Linked DNA regions of Homo sapiens: regions 1 and 3 are each reported to be linked to region 2. The links are microRNA targets in miRTarBase. Many come from high-throughput screens and were not tested one by one. Region 2 holds a microRNA gene; each other region holds the end of a gene's coding sequence.

Region 1 (4,242 bases), not on the chromosome of region 2:
GAATTTACTTGAATGAGAAAATTGTTACCCTTGTGCATAAAGAGAGAGATGTATTATCTATTACTTGCTAAAAGTAAGAGTCTTAGGAGGAATGTCATTACACAGCTTTTAACAGTTTTCTTCAAGTTTGTCCTGAAATAGGGTCACAGTTAATACTGTTCAGTAGAAGATAGGACCCTAGAGCTTCAATACAGCGTTCTGTGTTTTCTGTTTGAATTGAAGCCTTAAAATGGTTTGATAAGGATTTTCTATATGCCTCCACTCCTACCCCTCCCCAGGATTCTTCTAAGGGGTGGCTTTTTTTTAAATTCAAGGACGAATATTTTCAAAAACCCTAGTGAAGAAGAAATATTTACTGATTACATTTCTTTTCCCTTAGGGATAAAGAAATGGAGAAGAGCTTTGAAGTAGTAAGACACAAAAATAGAGGTAGGGATGAGGTTTCAAAAAACCAGGCCCTTAAACTTCAGCTAGACAACCAATATGCTGTGCTTGAAAATCAGAAAAGCAGCCACTCACAATACAATTAAGGAATGGGCTTTGCTAACCCTTCTGAGGTAACTAGACTGCAGCTAACCACCACCAACAGCCATTCATCATCTGATCTCTGCTGGATCTACAGACACCGATGCAGACCACTCGATTTCATGACCGGCCCTATTGCACTATGGAAGTTAAAGTGTCACGACTGCTCTATGCATATTGGATTTAGGGGAATTTTCATTGTTACATAAATGTGTGAACTAGTTTCAACAGTGTTCTTTCATATTTACTCTGCAAATACAAAAAACCAAAACCTGCAGCCAGTGGTCATTTCAAAATCTTTTTATGTTCAGATACTGAGCCTTCATAAGGGTTGACTACCTCAGATTTGCTGCACTCATTGTGGACTTCATGTGGATCACAACTTCTGGATAAGAAGATTACAACTATTAAGTGTCGATGTGAACCTTGCAACCAGCTCTACTGGATTCTTATCAGAAATCCTGCATAAAAAGTCAGCCATCTGGGTTCTGATCTGCTGTAAAAGATGAAGATTTAAGTGACCTTAATTAACCTGTCCTGTGCCCTACCCTTAAGGAATACTCTCTGTAGTAGGCTGTTGTTATATTAGACTTCCTGGAACACACTGCTGAAAAGAACTGATGTGTTCAGATCATCTGTGTAGGGCTGTGATTTGTAATTTAAACTAATTGTATTCTGAGGTAACCACAAAATAAATTCAACCAAACTGGGGTCCACCAAGTGGGGGAAGGGGAAGGGAGAGAATAATCTTGGGGGTTTTTTTTTTTTGGTAATTTTTTTATTTGGATAGTGCTTTTTTGTTTTGTTTTTGTTCTGCATTAAGGCCTTTTTTGCTTTGACTTGAAATAAGTTCTTTGACAGAGCATATTGCTTGGTTAATTAAGTAACCTAAAGTATGCATTAGGATTGTGAAATGTCTCGTGAGTATGCCAATCCTGAGGGTGGAACCAAATAGCCTTTGATGAAAAGGGCAGTGGATTCTGGAGGCTCTACTTCAGGTGCTGCTATAATGCCTCATCTAATCAGGACTAAATTGTGTAGGAAACTGCAGTGGGAAGAATATGCTTTCTGCTCAGGCTAAGAGGGTCACTGATCTGTCCTTAGAAATTCAGAGTAACATGAGCAAAACCTCAGCTAAAACCCATTTAAGTGGCATGGATTGTGCATGATCTTTGATAAGAATTCCTCATGTACTTGTGCCTAGTTTTTCAAGGTATTGGCTGTTCTATAGATGCAGTGATTGTCCCAGCTAGCTCTGTTACCAGCCTTTTGGTGTGTCTTTATGTTCATTTGGAGAGTCAGGGCGAAAGACAGGTGATGTAGCACTTCTGTTTTTAATAATTATTGCTTAAAATACCTATTAATAGTTTTGGGTCATTTAAAGGGACTTGAGGAAGCTACCCAGGATTACAGAAGAGTGTCCACCTAACAAGATGGTCTGGCAGTTTCCTAGTTTTGTATCTGGTTCAATAGAAATATGTGAAAGTGGTAATGTCATCATTTGATGCAGAGTCCGGGTTTCTCTATAATAAATCCCTTTGCCAAATGCATGAGTTGCAGACTTGCTACTGGCAAGAGTGAAGCAAGTGGGTGAGTAAAACTATTTTGACGTGGGAGCGTTTTCAGATAGGAGTTTAGTCTTGACGAAAGTGTCCGTGCAGGAATTGGACTCCGAGGAGGGTTACAGTATCTCCTGACGGGACCTGCCACTCGCATCTGGGCAATGTTGACATTTGAGGTGGCAGGCAGGATGCCTGCCTTCTAATATATTTGGGTGAGTAACTGAGCCAGCCAAGGGAAGGTTGAATGATTAAATCAGAAATGGGATTCTTGGTAAACTGAAGACTTTTATTTGGGAATGAAAAACCTTAAAAAAATCTCTTCATCGTTGAACTGTGCATTTTCCCTGCATTTTTTCCCAACAAAATTTTGTTGGGGGTTATGTTACTGAAGAATGAACAGATGAGTAAGTGGAGGTGTTATGTAAAGGCATATTGTACTCGAAATCTGAAGACCTGCAGCAGATTTAAATTACAACTCTTGTTATAACTTTTTAAAAGATTGTGAAAATATCAAAATATAAATGAATCAAGTTTTAATATACTGTATGATGGGTGGATGAGGCTGTCCATTGTACCATTTGTTTGAATTCTCAGGCATGGTTTGGCAGTGCAAGAATTCTGTAACATTAACAAATTCAATAAAAAGTAAATATATGGATTTTGGACTGTAATGGTTATTTTAAAGCCTTATTCTGTCTTTGAAAATGGTGAGTTGAGGTCACACCTCTCTTGCTGTGGGAAGGTGAAGATGCTCTAAACTCAGGGGTGTACTTTTTTTTTTTTTTGAGACAGTTGCTCTGTCGCCCAGGCTGGAGTGCAGTGATGTGATCTTGGCTCACTGCAACCTCCGCCTCCCTGGTTCAAGCGATTCTCCTGCCTCAGCCTCCTGAATAGCTGGGATTACAGGCGTGCACCACCACACCCAGCTAACTTTTGTATTTTTAGTAGAGACGGGGTTTCACCATGTTGGCCAGGCTGGTCTTGAACTCCTGACCTCGTGTTGCACCTGCCTCGACCTCCCAAAGTGCTGGGATTACAGGCGTGAGCCACCGGGCCTGGCCAGGAGTGTACTTTCTGTTTCAGAAGTGTTTACAGAGTACTCAAGCATAAAAAAGACCGATGAGGATTTAGGCAAACCAAAGACAGTAAAAAAAGAAATAGAAAATTTAAAAAATACAACACGCATGAAAGTGGCTGCAAAGCTGTGACAAATATTTTTGGAAAACTTGAAATACACATTTGTCCTTGTTGCTGTATTAAATTTTGTTACCTTAAACTATGGCAAAGGAATCTAAAATCTTTATATAGACTAAGGATTTAAGGCTTTGTTCGATTAATCTTACAATTCTCAAAAACAGTAATTTTAAATTTCAGGATTTAGTTTGGATTATAGTCCCTCGATTTCTAAATTAGCAAAAGTATATTTCAGTCATTTTGGTAGTGGAGTTTAAATATGTAATGTTAACAATTTACTATTTGATTATTCTTTGTGCTTGATTGAGATCTTTTTTTTTTTTGACAACCTTATTTAAGATAGAACACACACACAAACTCACACTCTATCAGTCTTCCCTGCTTTAATTTCTTCTATAGTTTTAACTTTTTAGATAAAAGTCACTCTTTTCAAAAAGAAAAAAAGAGACAGGGTCTTGTGCTGGAGTGCAGTGGCGCAATCATAGTCCCCTGCAGCCTTTAACTCCTGGGATCAAGGAATCCTCCCGCTTCAGCCTGCTGAGTAGCTGGGATTAATGTGTGTGCTACCAAGCACTATTTTGTTTTTTAAGAGATGGGGTCTTGCTATGTTGCCCAGGCTGTTCTCAAGCTTCCTGGTCTCAAGCAGTCCTCCTCTGCGTCCCAAAGTGCTGGAATGTTTTACAGCCACTTTGGGAGCCACTACACCTGGCCAAAAGTCACCTTTTGAAGTGTACAATTTAAGAATTTCTTATATTCTCAAAGTTATGCAACCATCACCACTCTTAAAATTCTTGAACATTTTCATCACCCCAAAAAGAAATTCTATTGTTATTAGTCATCATTTTCTTCTTTCCTCCCAAATTCCTCAGTCCTAGGCAGCCACTATTGTATTGTCTCTAGTTTCTTTTTTCTGTTTTTTTTTTTTTTTTTTTTTTGAGACAGTCTTGCTGTCACCCAGGCT
Region 2 (4,242 bases):
AGAACAGTCTAAAGGAAGATTCTACGCATTATCAGAATCATTGAATATATTTCTGTAAAATGGCTACAAGATACCTATAAACATTCTTCAAAGGGATCAAACTGCTAAAATATTTTATTATTCCTGTTTTTATTTTGTTTCAAGAATGATTGATTAATTCATCTTTTCTAGTAGCTTGATATTAAGGGACTAATATTTTCCACATATTCTACGTTTTAACCACATTCGCATTAATGAAGAAAATATTTTTTAAAATGTTTCAACAGGAGGTTTGACTTTGCTGCAAACAAGGTAAAGATACTAGTACTGTTTGACTTCAGAAAGCTGTTTTGCTATATTTTCTAATAATTGCATGTAATGTTTTTCATATTCTAATTTCCCCTAAAAACACATTTGTCTCATTATTTATGTGAAAATATTCTTTTATTTACCATAGTCATGAAAATGCTGAACAAATTGGAATACAAACTTCCATAGAAATAAATATTTAAGTGCTAAATGTAAAGATAGCTAGGAGAAATTATTAGACAATTTTTATTGCACATAACTAAACATGGTTACATTTAAACATATAGATTTTGCAAAGGACACTGCATGAAAATTTGGTTTTTGTTTGTAATATCAAATGTATTTGTTGTCCTCATAGCTAATACATGTAAATGTGTGTATGAGGGGAGGGGTAGATATACAATGAAATGTCTTCAGTTATATTCAGCCCATGGACACAAAAGAAAAGAAACACCCATTTTCCTTGTTCCCTTAATTTCCTCTCCTCCTTACCCCTCCTCTCCTTCGCTTTGCCCTCCTCCTTATCTCTCTCCACCCCTTTTGGCTCCTTTAGACTTCTCTTCACTCATCACCCCACCCCTTCCTAGGCAAGCCCATATCTACTCCTCTCTCCTCCTCTGTCTTCCCTGCCTGTTACTCCCTCCCTACTCCCCATGTGGCCTCCTTATGCCTCCATTTCTTTTTTTTAGTTCTCTCTCTCCTTGCCTCCTCACCCTTTCTTTCCCCTGAACTCTCAATCCTTCTTCCTTTCTCATTCCTCTCCCCTTTTCCTCCCTATCCTGCTCTTCCCAGGAGATGCTACAACTCACAGTCCTTTTTTAGGATACCAAATGACTACTATCCCCCACCAACCATTTATTGAAAAGACTACAAACTTAGGGGTTTTAGCTCAAAAAATTGCAACATATTTGTAGTTGCCTCGTGGTTGCAAGCTTTTTATAAGCACTGTGGCTATTTTTCTTCCCAATCCAACTTTAGTGGGGGGGTGTTTGCCACTTACAGTACCTTGACATCACATTAAGTTCTGTTTATTTCCCTCTTTCTCTTTAGATGCAAAAAATAATCAATAAGTATAAAATTTTGCTGATATGTGTTTGTGTGTTCTTAAGCTCAAAAAGAGTTGAAAGAGAACTGTTCAGCCTATTTTTTTTGTCATGAGTAAAAGTAAAGTTGAAGTGACTTAAGACAGTACATCTTATGTTCCCTGTGGGTTTTACAAGGAAATTCTGCTATTAGATAAGCTTTGGAAAAGTTACAGGAGGTATCTGAATATACAGCACACTGAGAGCTGTCATAAAGTTCTGGGGTGGGGTTTCTTATATATGCCCTCATAACTTCAGAGACGGCACAGCTCTAATGAACACTCACTTCTAGTTCACTCACAGGCATTTTCTGGATACAAACAAGTCCTCAAAAAGAATTTTGGTCGTCTTACAAATTTGTGAACATTGTATTTAATTCATGTGTTTTAATCCACCAATGGAGAAACATAGTCTGTTTTATATTTCCTGTAGATTATAAACATGCCAAGTTTTAAGTACAAAGATGCGTCACCTAGTGGCTGACAAGCCAGGTTACCATTTACATAACGAATGCCAATATTAATGTTATGTAGCTGGCTTTGGTAGTTTATAATGAGCTTTAAAAAATTCATATGCGTGAATTTTAAATGTTAACACTGCTCTCCTAAGGAAATTAGTATGTTACGGATAAATATTGCAAACACATATACTGACACGAAAACACAATGGTAACAATATTCAGAGTCTTTTTGGAAATTAGCTTAAATGTTACGGCCACTTAAAAATTCTACATATGACTATTGTTTAAATACATTTTTCATGTCTCTGATGTAGTCCTTATTTGACATAAGTATTTTATTCACTGCTTAATTGTTAGATAGATTATAGACAGCTGTTACTAAGTAATACTGCTCCATTAGGGCAGAAACAGAAACTTTATTTTAATTAAATGTGTACTAATGTTTGAGTTTCTATATTTTGCTACAGTGATAATTCCAGTAAAATAAACTGTAGGCCTCTAGTTGTTTTAGAATTTTAAAACTGTAAATGGACTCAGAGAATCAGTTTCTTATTAGACGTCATGAGAGTATATTTTTTTCATTATGCTTTAAGAGGGAATTTGTAACTTGCTCAGGTAACATTCAAGTTTTCTGGTTTGTGTTTGTCCCTACAATTAAACACACTGAACTAACAGGAAAAGGTTACATACATTTAGGAACAATTGCACTTTTAAAGGGAGAGAATGCATAGTTGCTCACATATCTCAGTGTCAGTCACCTAACATGGATCAGTGCTTTATTTGAGATTACAAAACTAGAAAATGACGGAGTCAAGGCTAGGACCAATATTCTGTTCAGTCTTAGATAATTATAGAATACACATTAAAATCAGATATTTGAATTTTCTTAATTTTGTAACTATTTGTCATTGAAAGGAGATACTAAAAAAATTATATATCGTCCTAGAAAGTACATGAACTAATAATGCATTTCTAAAGGTGAAAAAAGAATAGGTATTTTTCTGTTTAATATTCAATTTTATAGAGAGTAGTACGTTAATTTTTTTAAACCCCAGAAGCTCAGGATCTTATCATTTTAAAAGAAATTATCACCAGTTCTGTGTGAGTAAATAAAGTATTATAACACTTTGTGTTTTTCATCCATGATACCTTGTATTTACTTACCTGAGCTTTTTTTCTAGGGAAAGAAAAATGCTCAGGTAATAACAGAGCCTTGAAAAATTTGGATTTTCAAAACTACCTATTTATGTATAGGCCTTTAGATCATCTGATGTTGAATACTCTTTAAGTGATCTAAAGGCCTACATATAAAAAGGTATTTTTATTAAATTCTGGAATTAAACATTTCAGCATTACAAGAAAAGAAAGCAAATCCACTGGAACAATTCTGGGAAAGAAGGAAAGACTGTGATTAAATGCCTCTTAACTACTTCAGATTCCTGGATTGATGTCTTATCTACAGGCTTCTTTTTAAAAATCAAGAATGATTGGCTGTGAGTTTACCAGGATTATAGTTGAGGCTAAAGGACAGCTCCTCAGGAAAGCCCCTGTTCTACATCTACGGTCACATGCTGGACCTTGAGTTGTCACTCAGAGAAAAGAGTGCCATCTACCGAAACTCCACAGTTTCCATTGTGAATGGCTTCTTTGGTGCAGAGTTCCAAAAATTATGTAGCCCAGCTCTTTAATTTTGTAACATCTAATGATATCACCGCCTTGAAGTGATTAAAGTAGATTGCTTAAAGAATTAAAGCTTTAAAGATGAAAGATGTTATTGCTTTTGCTGGACATGAGGAACAGTTGTAAAGTTTCCAGGTCTACAATAACTTTCTGGAACCCTCTCAGTGAACTGTTTCTTGTAAAAGTTTTCCCTAAGATAAAAGCTCAATCCCATTGTTTCCACACTCAAAAAAAAAAAAAAAAAAAAGATCATATAGTGTAAAAAAAAACTCTCCAGACTTTTCAAAGGGGAAACTTTGCCTGTTTCATGTCAAGATGACAACGGAAAAAATGAGATAGCTATTCTTACATAAATCATTTGTGAACTGCAGTTGGGGGAGTTACATTAACCACCAGAGTTTCAGTCTGTGTCTAATGAAAACACAGCAGAAGTGGATTCCTTTCAGATTAACTAATAAAACCCTTGTTTTTTTCCATGACTGAGGTCAAGCACTGCTGTTTAAAATGTAGTCTTAATGAACAAAATGAAACGTTGAAAGAGGACGAGTCAAAATGCCCAAAAGATGTAAACATCAAAGAGAAAAGATCCAGAAATTATTAAAAGTTAAACTTCCCTTGAATTCTAGTATTAAGAAAGTACTGCTTCAGTAAAATGGCATATATTTTTCTGAAACTGTTTTTCTATAGTATTTTGTGTGGAGGATGACAGAGACTGCATTTCTCAAGTAAATT
Region 3 (4,210 bases), not on the chromosome of region 2:
TTCAAGGCCAGCCTGGCCAACGTGGTGAAACCCCGTCTCTACTAAAAAATATACAAATTAGCTGGGCATGGTGGTGTGCACCTGTAATCCCAGCTACTTGGGAGGCTGAGGCAGGAGGATCGCTTGAAACCGGGAGTGGAGGTTGCACGGAGCCAAGATCACACCATTGCACTCAAGCCTGGGTGACAGAGCAAGACTCTGTCTCAAAAAAAAAAAAAAGGAAGTGGGAAGCAGAAGGTAATATCCAGAACACTAGTAACAAGGAATGTAAAGCCCCCAGAAGACCTTCCCCATGGGATGAGGACTCAATTTCAGAGCAATGCCAGGTTTGAATAGACTCACACAGAGGGCCCTTCTCTGCTGACAACTTTGGGAGTGATGGTCCTACCCAGGCCACTTAAGTTTGGCTAAGTGTTTCAACCAATCTGCAAAACTGTACCCCAGCACTTTGCTTCCTGCTCCTGAATTGAGAAATTTCATATTTAGTTGTGAATCACAAGCATATAGAGACTCCACACACTAATTCCTAGGGAAGAGAGCTCCAAGGATCACAAGCATATAGAGACTCCACACACTAATTCCTAGGGAAGAGAGCTCCAAGGACCAGACAGAATTATCCTTAAATCAGGAGATGATGAGATAGATGCCTAAAAAGCATAACTCAAAGGGGTGTGGACTTCATAGATATCCAATCTAAAGAAAATGATATGACCCAACATGGTTCACTTCCTTTCTTAAATAGCTACTTTGTCCCTGTTCAATTTTTATCTACAAATATATTAAGAAAAGGAAATCAAGCATCACTATAAATGGTAAACCTCAATCATTAAGTAGTACTGTGTTCCCCAGGCTGAGAACTTGGCTAAACCAGATGAATGGGGCTTGAGAGGCCCTTGAAAACATTCCATGGAAGACAATGGTAAGGGAAAACGCCTAGGCCTGATTTTCTGCCCTCCCTCTTATCACCAGCCACCCTGCCCCCCTCAGGCCTGGATAATGGGTGGAAGACACCACCAAGTGTTTATGATCAAAGAAACTATAAAACATGGTTCTTAGGCTCTGAGATACTTCCTGCTTCCCTCACAAACATGCTTATGTTTGGTGTGCATGCACATTTGCCTATCAGCACATATAAAGAGACAGTGGAAAAGTCAGAAGTGTTTTCAGGTTATTTTCTTTAAAAAAAAAAAAAAAAAAAAAAAAAAAAAAAAAAAGCAAAAACCATGGACCTGGTAGCACTCCAATTTCCCATGATCCCACCCCCAACCCCTCTACACAATAGAAACTGCACATATAAAAGAAAGCCTTCTCTAGTCAGGTCAGCCTCCCAGAATGATGGCCTCTGCTGAGTAGAAGCAAGACCCAGTCCCTGGAACACTGGATAGACAGTAGGCATGTGCTGCCTCTCAGAATACCCATTTACTTTCTGTCAACTTCAAAAGCCAAGCCCATCCCTCCAGGGAATGGTTTCAGTTCCCGGCTGGGAAGGTTTCCGGATTCTTGGAGGCTAGTACAGTGATTTCCTAGAAGTGAACACAGAAATACTACCCCCTTCTCCCGACAACACACACACACAGACATACACATGCACACATGCATCTCTGGGATCCCAGTGCTCCAGGGCCTGAGAGGCATCAGTGTAACCCAGGTTCTGAGTGTGTCCCATAAATTGGAGATTCAGTCTAGCTCACTCCTACTGCACCAGCCTCAACCTGAGAGCTCACTCCAACTGAGTCCCTTCACCATCCATTCTTGGGATGCATCTGAAAGAGAAAGCACTGGTTGGAACTGCTATTTTTAAATTATTAAAATAATTTGCATAGCTAAATTGTAGATCTAAGGCTTCCATGAGTAGAAGAGTTAAGTGTCTGGCAGGGTGCTTATGAAAACACAAAGCTTCTTAAGTTCCACTTTTGGTGTTATTGGACAGCAGACAAACACACATATACACATGCACCCCATCCATCATCTCCTTGTCTCTTCTCTGAGGACAATACCCCAGAGTCTGCTAAGGCCCTCCAAAGATGGAAATGGGCTGGTCAGAAGAGCTGTAGGAGCTACTACTGGGATGACCTGACTAAGCTGCCTTCTGGGCTGGGAAGAGGCAGGTACACCACCTGCCCAGTAAGGAGGGAGCCATGGGTAAGTGGTAAAGCTCTAAAGCCAAAGTTTGTTCATCATAAAGAACTGTCTGGCAAAGTGTTGGGGTGGGGGATACAGAGGGGGCGGGGACACCAGTAGGAAGACAGCCAGTGTTTATGCTTAAGGACTAGACGACCCTCCCCTGGCAATGGCAATAAGGGGAGACCCAGAATGACTGGTGTGTTCTTTTAAGATAAAACCCAGACTTAGGGCTCCTACAGAGAAAGGGCTCCTCCATGTTCCTTCAAAGATGGAGGCAGCAGACACCAGGCCTACATGGACCACCTGAAGATATTTTCGAACATGAAATCAACAGTCCCTCAACCCAGCAACCGCCTATCCACAGCTTCACTATTCAGCATAGAGAGCCAACATCTAACATCATCCCAGGAGGACACAGCTCCAAATCTGGGGTCTCTTACTTCCCAATTGCAAACTCCATGATCACAACTTTCGATTTCTGTGGAATGAGTCCCACCCTCCACTAACTATCCAGTCTCAGGATTCCCTGATCTTCCTGAAAAGCCATCTCTCAAAAATATAGTTGTTTAATCCAAACCTTGGTCAAACCTAACTCTTCCCCTGGTCAATTTACCATCCATCCAGGATTGTTTTTCACCAGTGGCTATAGGGTCTGGGATATCTTAAAACTTCCCTTTCTATCACCTACCCTCCTTACCCCTAACCTCCCCCCACCCCCAAATAAACAAGACACATGAAAAGTCCAAGTAATAAATAATTGCCCATAAGAAATAAATTAACATGGAGCTCTCTAAAGGGGAAGGAAAGGAACAGAAAAGACTACCAGGATAGGCAGCTGGGGGCTCAGTTCTACCCTGGTGAAAAATGTATTTTCCAGCCACAACTCTGCGACCTTTCATTCACGTACTGCAGTGCTTCTCCCTCCCAGCCTCTGCACACAGACAACCTTCCAAGCTGGAAAGGGAGAGCTGCTCAGAGATAGCCACCGGGGTTAAGAGACATAGATTGGTAATGCCCATTTTCTCTCATGAATTTCCCCAAATTCTCACACAAATGTGGCTCTGAATACCAGGGACTTGAGTTAGCTGGGCCTTCTCTTCACCCATCCCGAAGGAAACTTGTTATTTCCATGGCTCTTCTGGGCTCACCCTGATGTTCACACTAGGTGCCATGAACCACCAAACTGACTTCCATTTAAAGAAAGATAAATTCATTTTTCAGTTTCCCTCTTAGTTCTTCCCTCCCTCCCCTCCCACCTTCACCCCTGCTCTGTTCCATACATACACATACAAAATAAACATACACACACACACTCACAAACACACATACCTGGTCAGCTTCCTTCCCACCCCCTAAAAAGACCCCACTTCACATGGGATCACAGTCTGCTCCCCCTACCCACCCTCCTTCTCTCACTCATTCTCCCTTCCTTCACTCCCCTCCCCAGGCCAAGCTAAGTCACCTAGTAAGGCAGCTCTCTTGGGAAAGAATGTTCCCAAAGACAGAAATGGGATGTGCGCTTCTACACTCAGATGGGCGAGCAAGCAAGCAGACAGCATAAGCAAGGCAGGAAGGAAAAGAGGCTGCACTGCCCCTCCATCCCTGTTTTGGGTCCCTGATTTCCCGCTATTGCTGCTGTGTTGGACTTTTTTTTTTTTTTTTTTTTTTTTGCCTCTTTTGTTAAACAGCAACAGAGCTCTGCCACTTTGGCCAACCACCCTCCTTTGTCCTCTTCCTTTTCCCTCCTGCCAAGTGTCCTATTCTCAAAAGGTCTAAATCACTGCCTTTCAGCTTGGTGGGCAACCTGCTGGGGGCCCCAAGTGAGGTGGGGAGGGGCTCCCTAGCTATTTCCCAGTGACCTCTATCACATCATCGTCTTTATCCTCATCATCATTGGAGCTGAACCCAACCTCGGCAACCTCATGAGAGTCAAATGGAGGCACCTGGGACCGTAGGAGGCCACCAGCTGGGTAGCCTGCATGTGGGGACATGTAGCCTGGATAGATAGACATGCCCCGCGAAAGGTTGCTGGGCAAGACAGGGGAAGGAAAAGGCGCAAACATCCTCGGCTCGGACAGGAGTGGCT

The links. The annotated mature microRNA hsa-miR-1245b-5p reads UAGGCCUUUAGAUCACUUAAA and lies in region 2 at 3,114-3,134, opposite strand. An mRNA with a match to its seed (bases 2 to 7 or 8) in the 3' UTR can be bound and repressed. Matches are read on the target gene's strand: a 7mer-m8 pairs with bases 2 to 8, a 7mer-A1 pairs with bases 2 to 7 and ends in A, and an 8mer does both.
Region 1: miRTarBase lists CDV3 as a target of hsa-miR-1245b-5p. Seed matches in the 3' UTR shown: 7mer-m8 at 1,346-1,352.
Region 3: miRTarBase lists RAD54L2 as a target of hsa-miR-1245b-5p. Seed matches in the 3' UTR shown: 7mer-A1 at 935-941.

What each region holds. Positions count from the first base shown.
Region 1 is chr3:133,587,517-133,591,758 of GRCh38, forward strand. It overlaps CDV3 (CDV3 homolog), which reads left to right. Exons shown (of 5, transcript NM_017548.5): 5 at 380-2,745. The coding sequence ends at 530. Among named protein-coding and RNA genes, the nearest start is that of CDV3, 16 kb to the left of the region's middle.
Region 2 is chr2:188,975,020-188,979,261 of GRCh38, forward strand. MIR1245B (microRNA 1245b) reads right to left here and starts at 3,142; the gene lies at 3,074-3,142. The region is part of intron 1 of COL3A1 (collagen type III alpha 1 chain); the gene reads left to right. It overlaps MIR1245A (microRNA 1245a), which reads left to right and starts at 3,073; the gene lies at 3,073-3,142. All of the region lies in intron 1 of LOC105373791 (a long non-coding RNA gene), which reads right to left.
Region 3 is chr3:51,663,179-51,667,388 of GRCh38, reverse strand. RAD54L2 (RAD54 like 2) reads right to left here. Exons shown (of 23, transcript NM_015106.4): 23 at 1-4,210. The coding sequence ends at 3,969. Among named protein-coding and RNA genes, the nearest start is that of TEX264, 6.0 kb to the left of the region's middle. RefSeq lists an enhancer at 4,202-4,210.